2 separate regions of the Homo sapiens genome follow, and region 2 is linked to region 1. A link means that fine-mapping ties the variant in region 1 to the expression of a gene that starts in the linked region. Tissue or cell type: whole blood. Region 1 holds a variant in brackets; the other region holds the start of a gene. All regions are shown on one strand. Distances are between the middles of the regions.

Evidence for each region. PIP is the estimated chance that this variant, and not a neighbour inherited with it, causes the effect.
Region 2: PNRC2 starts here. The variant in region 1 is fine-mapped to the expression of PNRC2 in whole blood (INTERVAL, PIP above 0.99).

The regions. Positions count from the first base shown.
Region 1 is chr1:23,979,098-23,987,277 of GRCh38, reverse strand. SRSF10 (serine and arginine rich splicing factor 10) reads left to right here and starts at 6,951. Exons shown (of 6, transcript NM_054016.4): 1 at 6,951-7,087. The coding sequence starts at 7,023. RefSeq lists enhancers at 6,627-6,676, 5,743-6,733, 6,687-7,016, 7,447-7,496, 6,734-7,724. The variant AC/C (reference allele first, on the strand shown) is at 3,343.
Region 2 is chr1:23,956,447-23,964,626 of GRCh38, reverse strand. It overlaps PNRC2 (proline rich nuclear receptor coactivator 2), which reads right to left and starts at 4,799. Exons shown (of 3, transcript NM_017761.4): 1 at 4,629-4,799; 2 at 3,493-3,698; 3 at 1,165-3,187. The coding sequence starts at 3,169. The coding sequence ends at 2,750. SRSF10 (serine and arginine rich splicing factor 10) reads left to right here. Exons shown (of 6, transcript NM_054016.4): 6 at 1-280. It overlaps LOC124903877 (a long non-coding RNA gene), which reads left to right and starts at 6,513. Exons shown (of 4, transcript XR_007065541.1): 1 at 6,513-6,525; 2 at 8,109-8,111. RefSeq lists enhancers at 4,533-4,802, 5,703-5,762, 5,941-6,569 and silencers at 5,003-5,112, 5,523-5,622.

The sequences.
Region 1 (8,180 bases):
GGCAGGTGGGGGTTCAGCCCCCGCCCGGCCAGCCGCCCCTTCCGGGAGGGAGGTGGGGGTTCAGCCCCCACCCGGCCAGCCGCCCCGTCCGGGAGGGAGGTGGGGGTCAGCCCCCACCCGGCCAGCCGCCCCGTCCGAGAGGGAGGTGGGGGGCGCCTCTGCCCGGCCGCCCCTTCTGGGAAGTGAGGAGCCCCTCTGCCCGGCCACCACCCCGTCTGGGAGGTGTACCCAACAGCTCATTGAGAACGGGCCATGATGACGATGGCGGTTTTGTGGAATAGAAAAGGGGGAAAGGTGGGGAAAAGATAGAGAAATCAGATTGTTACTGTGTCTGTGTAGAAAGAAGTAGACATGGGAGACTTCATTTTGTTCTGTACTGGGAGGGGTTCTTCTGCCTTGGGATGCTGTTGATCTGTGACCTTGCCCCCAGCCCTGTGCTCTCTGGGGCATGTGCGGTGTCCACTCAGGGTTAAATGGATTAAGGGCGGTGCAAGATGTGCTTTGTTAAATAGATGCTTGAAGGCAGCATGCTCGTTAAGAGTCATCATCACTCCCTAATCTCAAGTACCCAGGGACACAAACACTGTGGAAGGCCGCAGGGTCCTCTGCCTAGGAAAACCAGAGATCTTTGTTCACTTGTTTATCTGCTGACCTTCCCTCCACTATTGTCCTATGACCCTGCCAAATCCCCCTCTGTGAGAAACACCCAAGAATGATCAATAAAAAAAAAAAAAGAAAAGAAATAGCTAAACAAGCCAATAAAATATAAAGCTAGGATAACTAATCCATTTGAATAAGACAGCATAGAGCATCCAGAAATGACCCAAATACATAAAGTGGCATTTCAAATCAATGGAGAAGGGAGGGTGTCATAGTTCGCGCCTGTCATCCCAACACTTTGAGGCAAAGGTGGGAAAATTGCTTGAGGTCAGGAGTTTGAAACCCGTCTCTACAAAAATTTAAAAAATTAGCTAGGCATGATGGCACATGCCTGCAGTCCTACCTGTTAATACTTGGGAGGCTGAGGTAGGAGAATTACTTGAGCCCAGGAGCTTGAGGGTGTAGTGCACTATGATCGCACCACTGCACTCCAGCCTGGGTGATGGAGTGAGATCCTGACTCTAAAAAATAAAAAGGGGCAATGGTAGGTTATCCAGAATTGTATTGTAGTATAGGGTAGCCCACTGGAAAAAATAAATTCAAATCCCTATCTCACAAGTTTCATTGAAAGAGATTTCACACAAGCAAAGATTTAAATGTAATAAATAAATGAACCTATAAAACTATTACAAAACAAACAAACAAACAAAAAAAAGAAACTGGTCCCTGGTGCCAAAAAGGTTGGAGACTACTGGTATACAGGGCCAATTATTGACCAAAACCTTGTTATGAAGCCCATGATTGTATTTATTCAGTTCTTTCCCATGCCCTTTGTTACATGATACCAATTGTTACATGTTAGCCTAGATAACCAGGCTACAAAGAACAGTAAGCCTTGAGAATTCTATAAAGTCTTAAGGTAAAGGTTCTTACCTTTTCTCAGCCCCTACACGCACTCCTTGGTAAATCAGAGCTCCCTGATCTACTTTTCCAGGGAGATGTCATGTAGCATTTAAGAGTCAGACTCTAGGTCGGGCGTGGTGGCTCACACCTGTAATCCTAGCACTTTGGGAGGCCAAGGTGGGCAGATCGCTTCAAGTCAGGAGTTCGAGACCAGCCGGGCCAACATGGTGAAACTTCGTCTCTATTTAAAGTACAAAAATTAGCTGGGCATGGTGGCAGGCGCCTGTAATCCCAGCTACTCAAGAGGCTGAGGGAGGAGAATCCAGGAGGCGGAGTTTGCAGGGAACTGAGATCACGCCACTGCACTCCAGTCTGGGTGACAAGAGCAAAACTCCTTCTCAAAATAATAATAATAATCGAAGTTTTAATAGCAATTAGTTCTGAGTGGTAGGATAACAGGTGATTTTTGTTTCCTTTATATTTTTCATCTCCAAAGTTTTAACATGTATAACTAGGAAAAGTGTTATTTTAAGGCATTAAGCCAGAAGTAGTGTCTCACACCTGTAATCTCAACACTTTGGGAGGCCTCGGTGGGAGGACAGCTTGAGCCCAGGAGTTCAAGATGGGCCTGGGTAATGTAGTGAGACTCCATCTCTACAAAAAATTAGAAAAAAAAAATTAGTGGGGCGTGGTGGCTTGCGTCTCAGTCTCAGCTACTTGGGAGGCTGAGGTGGGATGATCTCTTGAGCCTGGGAGGTCAAGGCTGCAATAAGTCATGACTCTGCCACTGCATTCCAGGCTGGGCAACAGAGCGAGACCCTGTCTCAAAAAAATAAAAATTAAAAAAATAATGTGGTGAAAAAATATGTCCATTAGCCATGAATTCTCCCACAGAGCAAAATTAGTCAGAGCAGGGGTTGAAAGGTGAGCCTGCACATAGATATTAATAAATTGATAAATGTGTACATATGTATGTGCCCAAAAGTTTCCAACTCACAAGTAAAGGAATGTTTAAATGAGAACACTGAGTTCTCGCAGTCTGAAGAACTTGGCTTGCTGCCCACTCACTAGAGTGAGGCAGCTTATAGGAAATACCAGGCATGTCTTATCAAACAAATTAAATGAACATGCTTCTAATTGATTGTTTGCTCATGGAGACAGAGACACAACACCAAGCACTGTCTGTGGCAGTTGTCTGAATTAAGCAATTGTACCAATAAAATTAATGTTGTATTGACTCAAGGCTTTGGTTCTGCCTATGGAGTCAGGCTCAGAATTCCACTGACTTAACACACAGTATTTGTCCCTGTGAGTCTCCTTCCAGCAAGCAGAATGGCTCAATGAGTGTGCCATTACCCACAAATCAAGGAAGAACTATTTCAGGATCAAGGAAATTCAGTTATATTGTTTACATTTGGGTTTTATTTGTGCAGTTCTGAGAACAGTACCAAGGAAAGTGGTTTTCTAACATAAATCTCAATAAAACATAGTGTCTTCAAGAAGAGGTGCAGCACCCAACAGATCATTTTCAGAAATTAACATTTGGAGGCCAAGTGCAGGGGCTCACACCTGTAATCCCAGCAATTTGGGAGGCTGACGCAGGATGATTGCTTGAGCCCAGGAGTTCGAGACCAGCCTGAGCAATATAGTAAAACTCGTCTCTACAAAAACCTTACAGAATTAGCCAAGCATGGTGGCACGAACCTGTAGTCCCAGCTACTAGGGAGGCTGAGGTGGGAGGATCATTTGAGCCTGGGAGGTGGAGGTTGCAGTGAGCTGTGATCGCACCACTATACTCCAGACAGAGCAAGACTGTCTCAAAAAAAAAAAAAAAAAAAA[AC/C]AAGGAAAGAAAGAAAAGAAGAAAGAGGCCGGGCACGGTGGCTCATGCTTGTAATGCCAGCACTTCGGGAGGCTGAGACGTGTGGATCATGAGGTCAGGAGTTTGAGACCAGCCTGGCCAACATGGTGAAACCCCATCTCTACTAAAAATACAAAAACTTAGCCAGGTGAGGTGGCGGGCATCTGTAATCCCAGCTACTTGGGAGGCTGAGGCAGAAGAATCGCTTGAACCCGGGAGGCAGAGGTTGCAGTGAGCCGAGATCCTACCACTGCACTCCAGCCTGGGCGACAGAGCAAGACTCCATCTCTAAAAAAAGGGAAAGAAGGAAAATAAAGAAAGAGAGAGAGAGAACTTATCATTTGGGTCTTCAGAAAAATTACCGGCCCTGGTGTTATACTCAGAATTAAATACAGTGCTCTTAGCACACTGGGCAGCACTTCCGGGATGCGATGTTGCGCTTCCAAAATCCCTTAGTGTATCTTCCCTTGTCCCTGTCCCCCAACCCCCAGCAGATTTGTAGTTTGGTAAATTACCCAGCTCAAGCCCTATCTCTGGCAGAAAGGAGTTCACTCTCTCTCTCTACTTTTCCCAGCATCATCTTTTTCTAGGTTCTGGGATCCTACAGCAGAAAACATCAAAGGGCACTTTGTGGGCTGGGCACAATGGCTCACGCCTGTAATCCCAGCACTTTGGAAGGCCGAGGTGGGTGAATTATTTAAGGTCAGGAGTTCGAGACTAGCTTGGCCAACATGGTGAAACCCCACCTCTACTAAAAATACAAAAATTAGCCGGGCGTGGTGGCACATGCCTGTAATTCCAGCTACTGGGGAGGCTGAGGCAGGAGAATCACTGGAACCCGGGAGGAAGAGGTTGCAGCGAGCTGAGACTGCACCACTACATTCAAGCCTGGGCGACAGAGCGAGACTCCATCTCAAAAAAAAAAAAAAAAAAAGGGACACTTTGAGTGTGAGGCGGAAAGCAATTCTGGTGAGTAAATATATGTCCCTCAGTTGCCTGTATTATTTCTCAAGGCATTATGAATAATAATAATTGCTGGCATTCAGGGCCAGCTTCTTGAGCGTGCTACTTGTGCACTGGAATGGGCCCCATGCTCAGAAGGACCCTGCACTTGGCTTAGTACTCTGCGATTGTCGTTTTGAATTTCTTAATAAATATTGAATGAAGGGCCTTGCATTTTCATGTTGTACTGGGCCCCTGTGATCCTGTTAACATTTTAGGGCACTTTCTATGCATCAGACTCCATTCTAAATCTTCACCCTATTAAACATGAGTGGCTGGAGTAGCACCAGACAGTGTAAATTTCCTCCATTACTTAAGGTAATTTGCAGGACTCTGTTTTCTTGCCACTGAAAGTATTTAACTGAGAGGGGCAGGGGAGACACTTGCTCAGCAAGGCCTTCCTAGGCAAACCTGTTTTAAAAATTAAAAACAAGGCCGGGGGCACAGTGGCTCACACCTGTAATTTCAGCACTTTGGAAGGCCAAGGCAGGCGGATCAATTAGGTCAGGAGTTTGAGACCAGCCTGGCCAACATGGTGAAAACCCATCTCTACTGAAAACAGAAAAATTAGCCAGGCATGGTGGCAGGAGCCTGTAGTCCCAGCTACTCGGGAGGCTGACGTAGGTGAATCGCTTGAACCCAGGAGGCGGAGGCTGCAGTAAGCCAAGATCCAGCCACTGCATTCACGCCTGGTCAACAGAGCAAGACTACATCTCAAAAAATAAAATAAAATAAAAATAAGTAAAAATCAAAAACAAGAAAAAACCTATCACATTACTGTTTCTTTCATATAACAAACCTGCATTTACTTTATTTTCTCATTGCCATCGCCCTAGAAATATAAGCTGTATGTTTTTCATTACTGAATTTCAAGCTTCTAGCACAATGTCTGACACATAACAGGGAATCAAACTTTTTTTTGTTTTGTTTTGTTTTTCACATCACCCTCCCAAAATGCTGGGATTTTGGGGCCACCTTGCCTGGCCCAACATTTTAATAAATTAAGCATGCAAATCTTGGGAAACAAAAATTTAGAATAGCTCTGCTACAGAGTGCTACAAACTATCATCACCTGTATCGAATCACTTAATTGTCTTAGATGCTGATTGACACAAAAATAATGCCTTTATGACTTTTTATTAAATAAAAGTTCATTTAATTTAACAGTACTTGAGTCCCTGCTACCTGCTTGGCACTGTGCCACACGCTGGAGGCATTCCAACTGAAGTCTCTCATCTCCAGAAGTTGACTCTTATCGAGCAGGAAATGGCTCTCAAAAGGGCCTCCAAAATCAAAACCATACTAAAGATTATTTGCTATTTTCATGCTCATTCTCTTACAAACGTGGAGTTTTCCAGAGGGTACATGATGTGTGATAAAGGGTAGTGGAGTGTGTCAAAGTTTTCTCTATTTTTTTTTTTTTTCTTTTTTGAGACGGAGTCTCACCCTGTCGCCCAGGCTGGAATGCAGTGGTGCAATCTCGGCTCACTGCAACCTCTGCCTCCCGAGTTCAAGCGATTCTTCTGCCCCAGCCTCCCAAGTAGCTGGGATTACAGGCGCGCGCCACTACGCCTGGCTAATTTTTGTATTTTTAGTAGAGATGGGGTTTCACTGTGTTGGTCAGGCTGGTCTCAAACTCTTGACCTCGTGATCTGCCCGCCTCGGCCTCCCAAAGTACAGGGAGGGATTACAGGCGTGAGCCACCGAGCCCAGCCGAAGTTTCCTCTATTTTAAGTTCTCATTAACTATTTATTAATAGGTATAACCCACACTTTTTTTAAAAAAAGCTCTTTGGAATCTTCCGTAATACACAAGAATATAAAGGCGTTCTGAGACCAAAAAGTTTGAGAACTGCTGCAATACAGGTCCGATGCATACCCAGGAAGCCGTCAGCAACAAAGAATACACTACAAATGACCACAGTCATGAACCTACAGTGTGAGGTTTGGTCCCACCCAGGTTGGGAGCCAAATGCGTGACTAAGTGGAGATGGCTAGGGTGTGGGTGAGGGGCAAAGGCAGGCTGAAAACACTGGAGAGACAGGCCCAGCTCTGCGCAAGGGCACACACCTCCTTCCTTTACACACTCAATACAAGCTGTAAATCCTTCTTTCGCAGGTCAGGGCATAACCTGGACCAAACGGGAAATTTAAGGCAAAATAAAAGCAGGACATTAACTTGGACCAACCGGGAAATTTAAGGCAGCCTCTCTGAACTAAATAGTTTAAAAATCTGTCCATTTAGTAGTAACCGCAAAGTTTGGCCTAGAGACTAAAACATCTGCTTCCTGATTTGGGGGTGGAGATGAAGTGGAGTGTAAGGTAGAAAACGGCGGGAAATGAAGACCTAAAGAAAGAAAGAACAGGCTTGGGGGAGGGTAAGAGGCACCGCAAGAAGCCAACGAATGACACCGACGCTGAGGCGCGTGCGCCAGCCCTCCGCATGCGCAGGCGGACGCCTGGTGTTCTCGCGGGAAAGAACCGTTGCGCCCGACTTTGCGCGGAGGTAGGAGGGGGAAGTGGAGGCGGGAGTGAAGTCTCGCGAGAAGAGTCGGTTGCCGTAGCAGAGCCCTCTAGCTGTGTGTGTCTGAGGCTCGGCCGCCTGAGCCGCGGACGGTTTGCTGAGCCCGTTAGTGCGCCCGGCCGAGACACGCCGCCGCCATGTCCCGCTACCTGCGTCCCCCCAACACGTCTCTGTTCGTCAGGAACGTGGCCGACGACACCAGGTAGGTACAAGGCAGGTACTCCGGGCCTAGGCGGGGAGGCCGCAGGCGCCTGGAGAGGACCCTGGTGGTGGCGGCACTGGGCCGGGGGAGGGGACGGAGTGAAGATGGCGGGTCCCGCGCCCGCTTTGGCGCCGAACTAGGCCGCGCAGCGGGCCTCAGCCGCCGCGTGGGAGCGAGGGCGGCGCCTCTGCCTTCGCCGGGCCGCGTGGCGGGGTTTTTCGGTCCCCCTCCCCCTCCGCAGTTTGCAGCCCCTTTCTCCCTGCTTCCTGCCGGCGCGAGCAGCCCCCCGCCGCGGCCTTTCCGCGACCCGACGGCCGCCCCCCATTGATTTGAAGTTCACATTCTTCGAGGTTCACGCCCCCTTGGCCCAGAGATTTTTTTTTTTCCCCAGCCAAAAAATAGTGAGATGAAATAACGGGATCGAGGGAGAGGAATGTTGCTACCATTTATCTTTGTTGTTGTTGCCGTTGTTAATATTTGGGGGTTTTAATCAGTTGGAGGTGTTTGGAGAAAGGGAGCGTTGAGATTTGGGGAGTTAGATTTTTCCAGTTAAATGTTGCGAGTAGTTTTTCTTATTTCCTGGAAATTCTGGTCACCCTTTGAAAAGGGAGGTTTGGGAAGCGTCAGTCATTAGGACGTTGACAGCTAAGTTAGATTAATTCAGACGTACCTTAAATAGGCTTTGTTCTCACCATTCCCTTGTTTCGAGTTGCCTTCAGATTATTTTGGAAGAGTTCTTACTACAAGATGAGGCTTTTTATTTCACAAATAATGAATCTACACACAGAAAATAAGTGGTTTGGGTTTTTGGTGTTTCGTGGGGGTTTTTTGCTAGCTTTGTGATTTGCTTTTGTCTTAAATTTAAGAAGGAAAGAAAGCAATAATTCTTTCCATAAATAATTCTTTCCATAATTTCTAATAGTTACGTTAGCATCTAGAGAAATTTTCTCTTTACGTCATCTTGACACTTAACTATTTAAGAAGTTCGATATTTGTGACTTTTTCAGACCATATTTATCTACTGTTAAGTGTGTAAATCTGTCGCTAAAATTGGGGAGTAAAAATAAGTGCTTGGTATTTTTCAGAGTGCTAG
Region 2 (8,180 bases), 23 kb after region 1:
CCTGTGTTGTAGTTCTAGGGAAGAGGATAGTTTATTAGTATTTATTTTAAGCTTAAGGATAGGTTTTGGACCTGGATTCCATCATAGTATAACTGCCATCGAAAAGAAGACAAATTGAAATTACAGCATTTACCTAAGGTTCACAGTATGGCTGACTTCAGCAGCCTTACATGGTAAGTTCTCTGTACCAGCTATTTTTGGTTCTCGCAATTGCATCGACTTGGGAAATTCCTATCACCATTCTCTATATAGGCTAACCAAAACTTTTATCAGTACCTTTCCTAAAGTATGAAGTTAGGTAATCTTCCACTCCCACTTCCATTTACTCATTTTGCTTGAGTCAAACCAAAAATCTAGTGTATTACTAGATTAGTCACTAAAAATCTAGTGTATTCAATATATACACTAGATTCAATATATAGCTTAAAAACTAACAGACACCTAGGCTGAGATTTGTCCAATACATGAAGTTCAATTCTGCAATCCTTGGCATTGTTCACAGAAATTACCCTGGAAACAAAATGAACACCCAAATGCTGGTTCTGCCTTAACTCCAAATTGTTAACTAGTTTGCATGAAAATAATACAGCTTTGCCATGGGACTAGTTGTAGCATTTTAAGGATTACTCAAACTAGTTTTAAGATGCCCTATCATTTGGAATCTGTATCAGAAAGGTGTGGTTGTGATGCTTTTCTTCTGAGGGGTCCCCTTATATACTTTTCATTTGTCAACATACTTAAAACACAAGGGTTCTTGTCAACTTGATAAATTTGCTTATAATTTTTTTTCTATGAACCTAGATCATGGAATTAACTTTCAAAAGCTTTGCGATGTTTTCCATGTGTGGCCTTTTTTTTGCTTTTTAATTAACACTACTGGGAGAGAGAAATCCTAAGTAGTTGCTTAACTGCATAGCTGTCAAATCCTAGTATCTTCTGTATCAGTCAGCAAACTAGTTGCCCCTTTTCAAGCCAACAGTCCTATCACATTTTAGTTGTGACCTTTTTTATATATACGTATATATATATGATCAGAAATGTAGTGGTTCATAGTTCTGGAGTCTGAGAAATCCAAGAGTTTGGAATATTGTGAGTGTATTATGAGCTTCAAGTCAGTGACAAGTAAAACACATTTTTAAAAAGAATATTAAGCAATCAAAACCATTTTTAAAATAAAACCAAGCCAATGGGGAAAAATTTTATTTAATTTTATGCTTCACATTCATATCATGTACATTAAGTACTACATAAACTTGTCTTTAGGCTATCAATATTTAACTTGGGCAGTACTTCATCTTGATTTATTTGGAGAAATACAGCTTAGGCATCTGCTTACCTGCTTAGGCATCAAGAGGTGCCAAATTAGAAAATAGGGCATTAACAATCAAAATTTTTAAGCTGACCCACATACTTGCTACTGGTTTCGCTTATGTTTAAGCATTTAAAGTTGGCAAAACATGTTATCAATGTATTATGCAAGAGTTTACATCTTTTGCATAAGTGGTCCATTGGGTTGCACCTACCCCTTGACCAAACAAAAACAAAACATCACTGGCACCATACTCGAAACTACCTGTATCCTAGGTTATAAGATTGTGAAAGCCAACAATCTATAAGGTTGGAGGGACTCTAGTTAATCTTTGGGCTTAGAGGAGGAAAAAAAGATAGTCCCATACTGCATTTCACATCTCTTAAAAATAGTTTTAGCAGCTTAAACCTTTTTAGTTATAAAACTTATTACACTAGGGTTTACTTTGAAATATAGTTTACAACCAAATCAAGTATAACATACATACACTGGCACTTTAGCACAAGGGCAAACTTTAAAAACAAGTTATTTTGGACCTTTAAAATTAGGCCATATTATAAAAAACAGTCCACGGTCTTACATTCAGCAAATTCATACTAAAATACTCCATTTTTGTAAGATAAAGGCCAAGAAAACTTTACATATGCTACAAGTTTATTACAGATATTTACATGGCTCTTTCTCCCCTAGGTACTTAAAATTTTCACATTATCCAACTCCCCAAAGCAAGCTTTGCAGGAATGATGAGGCCAGAGCACTATTAGAATAGCTTGTGCAGTGCTGTAATACAAAAATGTATTTTGAAAGCTATTGAGTGACCATTAAATACTGTTTCTATAAAAAATGGTTTTGGTGTATTTGTTGACAGACACTTAATCCACTACATTTAATAAACAGGGCCATTGGGGTGTACTATGTCTCATTCTAATGAGCTCCAAATGCCCTTTCCACCCACTGTACAATTCACTAAAATGCAATTATTACGAAAAATTCACATTTTCTTTCAGCAGTGCATCAGGTTAGCATATTACTGGTTTGGGTGTTTCTAATATACTAAACCTTCAGATGTTTACCTAATTCTGAATCCTTGTGTTAGCTAGAAGCTTATAATCCGATTCACCAACTTTCAACAATCTACTGGTCCATGAATGATAAATTACTGTCTTCCCCTAACAATAGAAAAAGCTGATTCCTTTACCACTCCCCAAATCTAAACTTGGTTTCCACTTAAAAGTTACTCAGTTGAGAACACTTAATATCAAGTACAATCATTAGTTTAAGTTGCACTGATACTACCATTATATCACAGTGCACACAACACGAGATGGTCTATTTTTTTTACATTAATTAGTTCTACACAAATAGATTCCCTAGCGAATTTGTTTCAGACCAATTGACAACTATCCGTGAACATAACTAAATTTAAACATTTGTCTTATTTTATACCTGTACTTTAAGTAAGGTTTTAAGTTGAAATGTCATTATTTCCTTATCTGAAGGATTAAAGGAAACAGGGACCCAGTGGCTTGGTGGTTTGGGAAGAACACTTGGTGATGGCGGCTCACTAAATTTGGCACCAGCATAGTTCTGATTAGCTTGAGATTTAAAAAGTAACCTGGGACCTGATAAGCTAGAATTCCAACTTTGATTATTTGGAAAATTTTTGTTCTTCCCCCCATTTTGCATGGCCTGCCAGGCAGCTGCTGATGAGTTATAACCATGTCCTCTTTCTTTTTTCTTATGAACAATCTTCATCTGGGAATTCTGTTCCTTGGTCTTCTGTCTGTTAAGCTGTTGTTGGTTCTTACTAACATTTCTAGATTGAGGGGCTGGAATGTTATACCTCTCTCCACCACCCATCTTCAGCTTCTTTGTCACCTACAAGTGAATGGAAACAAATATTGAGTAAAATTCCATTAAGAAAAGTTCAAAATCTTTAAGAAGCTTCTATGGCTCCAACTTATAACTCCAGATATTTTGGACAAGACTCAATAACAGGCTATTCAGCTGCTTTAAACTCAAAAAAGCAAGCCGTTCAGACTTCAATATATGCACAACCTTTATTGTTATACCTTCCCTAAGAAAAATGAGCTTACCCACAAATCTACATAATCTATTTTAAAATAAAAACAATTGGTTTAGGATGGTTCCATCATAAAATGTTTGCCCATTATGATGATTACCTTTCAGTCTGCTTTTCAGATTGCAGGATCTCCACTACCTGTCCTCTTCCTTGCTGCCAAGCCCAAGATAACAAGTGTTGCTTTCTGACAGATCCCTTCCTTTGTCTCAATACAGAAGTTTTCATGGGCCGATCTGCTGAGTTCAGCCTAGGAGCTGAGGCCAACATCTGAGTCTCCTCAGCACACAAGTTTGAGAGAAGTCCTAGCTAGAAAAGTAAAGATTACTTCATTATTTCAAAAACACGTTGAGAAAGTGATCATTTAGATTTACTACGAAAATCGTTGACTGTAAAGAAGGCTACTTCCTGAACTAAAAGGTAGAAAATTTCTCGTAAGATGGCTTTCTTTGACCTTATAACCACGACCATTTAAAAAAACTCTTCACCCTTGAGATCCAGTCACTCCTGGGGAATTTTTGTAAGTGTCTCCAAGTCCCGCAATAAGTTTTATCTTTATCTTTTTCCTGGGAAAGACCTTCAGATTCTCTCGCGTATAAAATCAAGGAAGTGTTAAATGTTGAGTCATATCAAAAAATTGGCTTCAGGCGGATTTTCTAAAGAGACCGTGTTTTTAAACTCCCACCAGAATTTTCCAATCTTTCCACACATGTCACATCCATTTTCAGTCTCTTGGAACATGTAGACATCACGCAGTGTTTCCTTTGGTTATGAACGCTCTCGCCTCCTCCCCGTCTTAAAATAAGTTCTCACAAGCCCTAACAGTCTAAGCCCATCTTAAATATATAAAAATGTCTCCCTAGAGGGAACAGCTTAACTTTCAAGGTTTGGTTTTAATTTGATGTTCCAAGAAAATAAGTTACCAAATAGTTAAGCCCCCTCCTTTCAAAGGGGTAAGAGAGCTTTCCAAACAGATAAACAACCCTAAATAAATTGCCATTTCCGGACTGTGAGTAATTCCCAACTCGAACCCGGAAAACGCCTCCTCCGACGCCACAAGGGCTTGGCTTCCCAGTGGCCCCATCTCTCCGGAGCCGCAGGGGTCGCGGCGCTGCGACCGCCCGTGACCGCCCGCGCCCGCCCGGGTTACCCGGATCTCGCCTCCGCTCGCCTCCTTCCTCCAACAATGGGGAGCGCGGCCACCAACATGGCCGCGCCCTTAGCGCAGCCGCTACTTACTGACTTCAAGCTCGGAACTAACGCGGCAGCGGCTCCCTCTCGACGTCGAAGCCTCCCTCCCTTTCCAGGGAGAGACGAGGCACGGACCGACAAAGCCCACGAACACCGATGAGCGAGCTGCCGGCCACCCCAGCTTCTACAACCCGACCTTCTCCTTCTGCCTCTACCGACAAAATGGAGTCGGCAGCGACTGCAGAAGCAGGGCCGGGAGGCTCCGCGGCCAATCAAAACACGACAGCGCGGGCCTGGCCAATGAGAAGCGGGCCGCCGCCTGTTGCTGGGGCTGGCCGGGGGCGAAGGCGCGGAGGTGGGGCTGCAGAGGGTTTGAAATCTGCCCGGGGAGGAGGAGCATGCCGGGAGTAACTGCTCGGTCCACCGGTGTCTTAGTCCTTTCTCCGGCGGCCTCTCCGCGCCCCTGGCCCGCCGAGGCCCCGGCCGCTAGCTCTCGGCTCTTCCTACCGCTCGGCTCTCGTGCGCGCGGGCTCGCCGCCCTTGGGACTGCCCTGGGGGAAAAGACTGACCGGCGGGGGACGTTTGGTTCTCGAATTAGGGCCACTGAGTCCTGTAGCCTGTATTGACAGATGGAAGATACTCCGGAAAGCCTCTTGCCAGGGCGCAGCCCCCTCCCGCCTCGGGCCTCGGCTTCTGGGTCGCCTCTCTCCCACACCCACAACTCCGCGTCCGAAGCCGGCGCCTCCCCGCGGTTCCCTCCAGTGCCCCCACCCTCCAGCCCCGCAATTACTCAAAAGTTGCCTCCCTGTGAAGGCGGTTCAGACACACGCGGGCAAGTCAGTCACTTCCTGCTTGGTGGCCCCATTGGTCCTTAAGTTCAATTAGAGCCCTTTACGCGCCGTGTTACCGTTTCCTGTGGCTGCAGCTCTCCCCACCCACACACCCTCGAGGGCCACAACCGGTTAGGTTTTGTTTCTCTGAGCACAGCGCCTTCGCGCGTTGTAAGTGCACAGTAAGTTTGCTGAAAGAATGAGGACTGCTCTCCTCCCCTTTCTGCCCCACTTGTAAGTGAAAAAGGGGAAGAAAGAGAATATTGTTCAGTTGATTATGCCAGCCAGATGCAGGTAAGGGGAAAATGGCAATTTCTTTGGAGTAAATGTATAAGTAACCCAATGTGAATCTTTTAAAAGAGCACTAATTTCAATGAGCGTGAATAATTCTGGGCCAAACGGTACAAAATCAGTCTCATTCACAGTTTGTTCGTGTATACACATATATACCCAAGTTTACGTTACAGAATTTATATTTACCAACTTTTTATAAATCTCATGTAATTCGTTATTTTTGAGACGGAGTCTCCTTCTGTCGCCCAGGCTGGAGTGCAGTGGCACAATCTCGGCTCACTGCAACCTCCGCCTCCTGGGCTCAAGCGATTCTCCTGCCTCAGCCTCCTGAGTAGTTGGGATTACAGGCGCCTGCCACCACACCCTCCTAATTTTTGTATTTTTAGTAGAGACAGGATTTCATCATGTTGGCCAGGCTGGTCTCAAACTCCTAACCTCACGTGATCCGCCCGTCTCAGCCACTCAAAGTGCTGGGATTACAGGCGTGAGCCACCACACCCGGCCTGTATTTCGTTTTTTAATCTTCAATTTTTTGCCACCGTTATCCCCCACTTCCCAATCCAACCCAAATTCCTATATTCTAGCCATTGGATCTTAAGAAAAGTTACTGCATCTTACGGGATGCAGTTTGTTAATCTAATTTGATAAAAGAGGTATTTTTGAGCATAGGGACTTTCTGATGCTAATCATATTCAAATAAGAAGTATGTGGTAAACCAACAGGTGTCTTAGTGAAAGTGTAATCTGTTTTCCAAACATTCAAGAAGTTTGCTTAGACGTCTAGCCAGATAATAGCCAGCTGTATTTAATGAATTTTTAATGGTGTCACTTTAAAAAACAAAAAACAAACAAAAAAACACTTCCGTGGCTCCAAATTGTGATACGGAATAAAATCTAAACTCTAAACGTTTAGAAAATTATTCAAAGCCATTGCAGTCTAGAGTTAGTCTTTTCATGGCAGGGCATGGCTCACACCTGTAATCTCAGCAATTTGGGAGGCCGAGGCAGGAGGATCACTTGAGCGCGGGAGTTTGAGACCAGCCTGGGCAACATGGCAAAACCCCATCTCTACAAATAACAATTAGCTGGGCATGGTGGCACACGCCTGTAGTCCCAGCTACCTGAGAGACTAAGGTGGGAGAATCACCCGAGCCCAGGAAGTAGAGGCTGCAGTGAGCTGCGATCACAACACTGCACTCCTGGGTGAGAGTAAGACACTGTCTCAAAAAAAAAAAAAAAAAATTCATCTCTTCAGCCACTCTGAATTTTATCTGCATAAACGCACACATAACATTGGAAATGTATAAACCCACACAGAGTATCCTTACTCTGCCCCCTACCCTGTGCTAAATTTTTTTTTCTTACATCATTTCATTTAATCCTCACAATAATGTTGTGAGGTAGGAGCTGTTTTCATCCGCACTGTACAGATGAAGGCTCAGACGGTTTCGAGTTGAAAGCCAGGTACTAGGATTCAAGAGGCCAGGCTGCAGGTTGCCTGCAGCATCTGTGCTCTCCAGCACCTAAAAGGTTTTTTGCTCAGAGCAGACACTGACTGTTGACTGGGCTGCCGGGGCTGTTCGGGCAACAAGAAGCCTCCATCCTACCATCTGGCAGAACCAGTTTCTTTGCCAGAAGGTCAGAGTCGAGATGCCCTTGGGGAAAGCACTGTTAAAGCTTTTACTGCGTCCCAGACTCCCAGCACCCTCTCAGGCTAGCTCCAGCCTCATCATTCATTAGTATTTACCAAGTGCCCGCAACAGCTCAGAACTAGAGAGGAGAAGTTAAAATAATACCTTTTTTGGGACATCTGATACAGCCTCTGCCAGAACCATATGGTCTTTAAACTCAGCTCCACCAGCACAATCCTATTAGCAGTTCTCAATTCAAATAGGAAAATGTTGATGCCGACAAACAGCTCTCAGGATACAGCTCACCTAAACTGGAAGCCAAATGCATAATAAATACATGGATGTTTAATACAAAATATTTAGCAAAGATTTATCTGGTGCCTACTTTGTGCCAGGCACTATGCCACGCTCTGGGGATACAGCAGTGAAGGAGGCTCCATCCTGGCCCTAAAGGAACCCAAAAGCTGTTTCCTTTACAATTTACCAGAGAGGGAAACTAGTGTCTGGGAAGATTTATTCCCTCCCTTCTTCCCCTGAGAGTCAAGGACAGGCAAGGCCAAAATCAGCCTGCTAACCTCACTCAGGAGGTGCAGGTAACAAACATTGTTACTGGACCCTGCAAATAAAGTAGAAAAGGAGGGGGACTCTCACAACTTGCTGAAATTTTTTCACTGGAGGATCTGTTTTGAGCTATGTATCAGTGGCAACCAAAATCAATGAAATCATTAGGAAAACATTATCTACCTAATCTGTAAGTAGAGGTGGAGCAAAAAGCAAGTGTTTCTGGGCCGGGCACAGTGGCTCACGCCTGTAGTCCCAACACTTTGGGAGGCCGAGGTGGGCAGA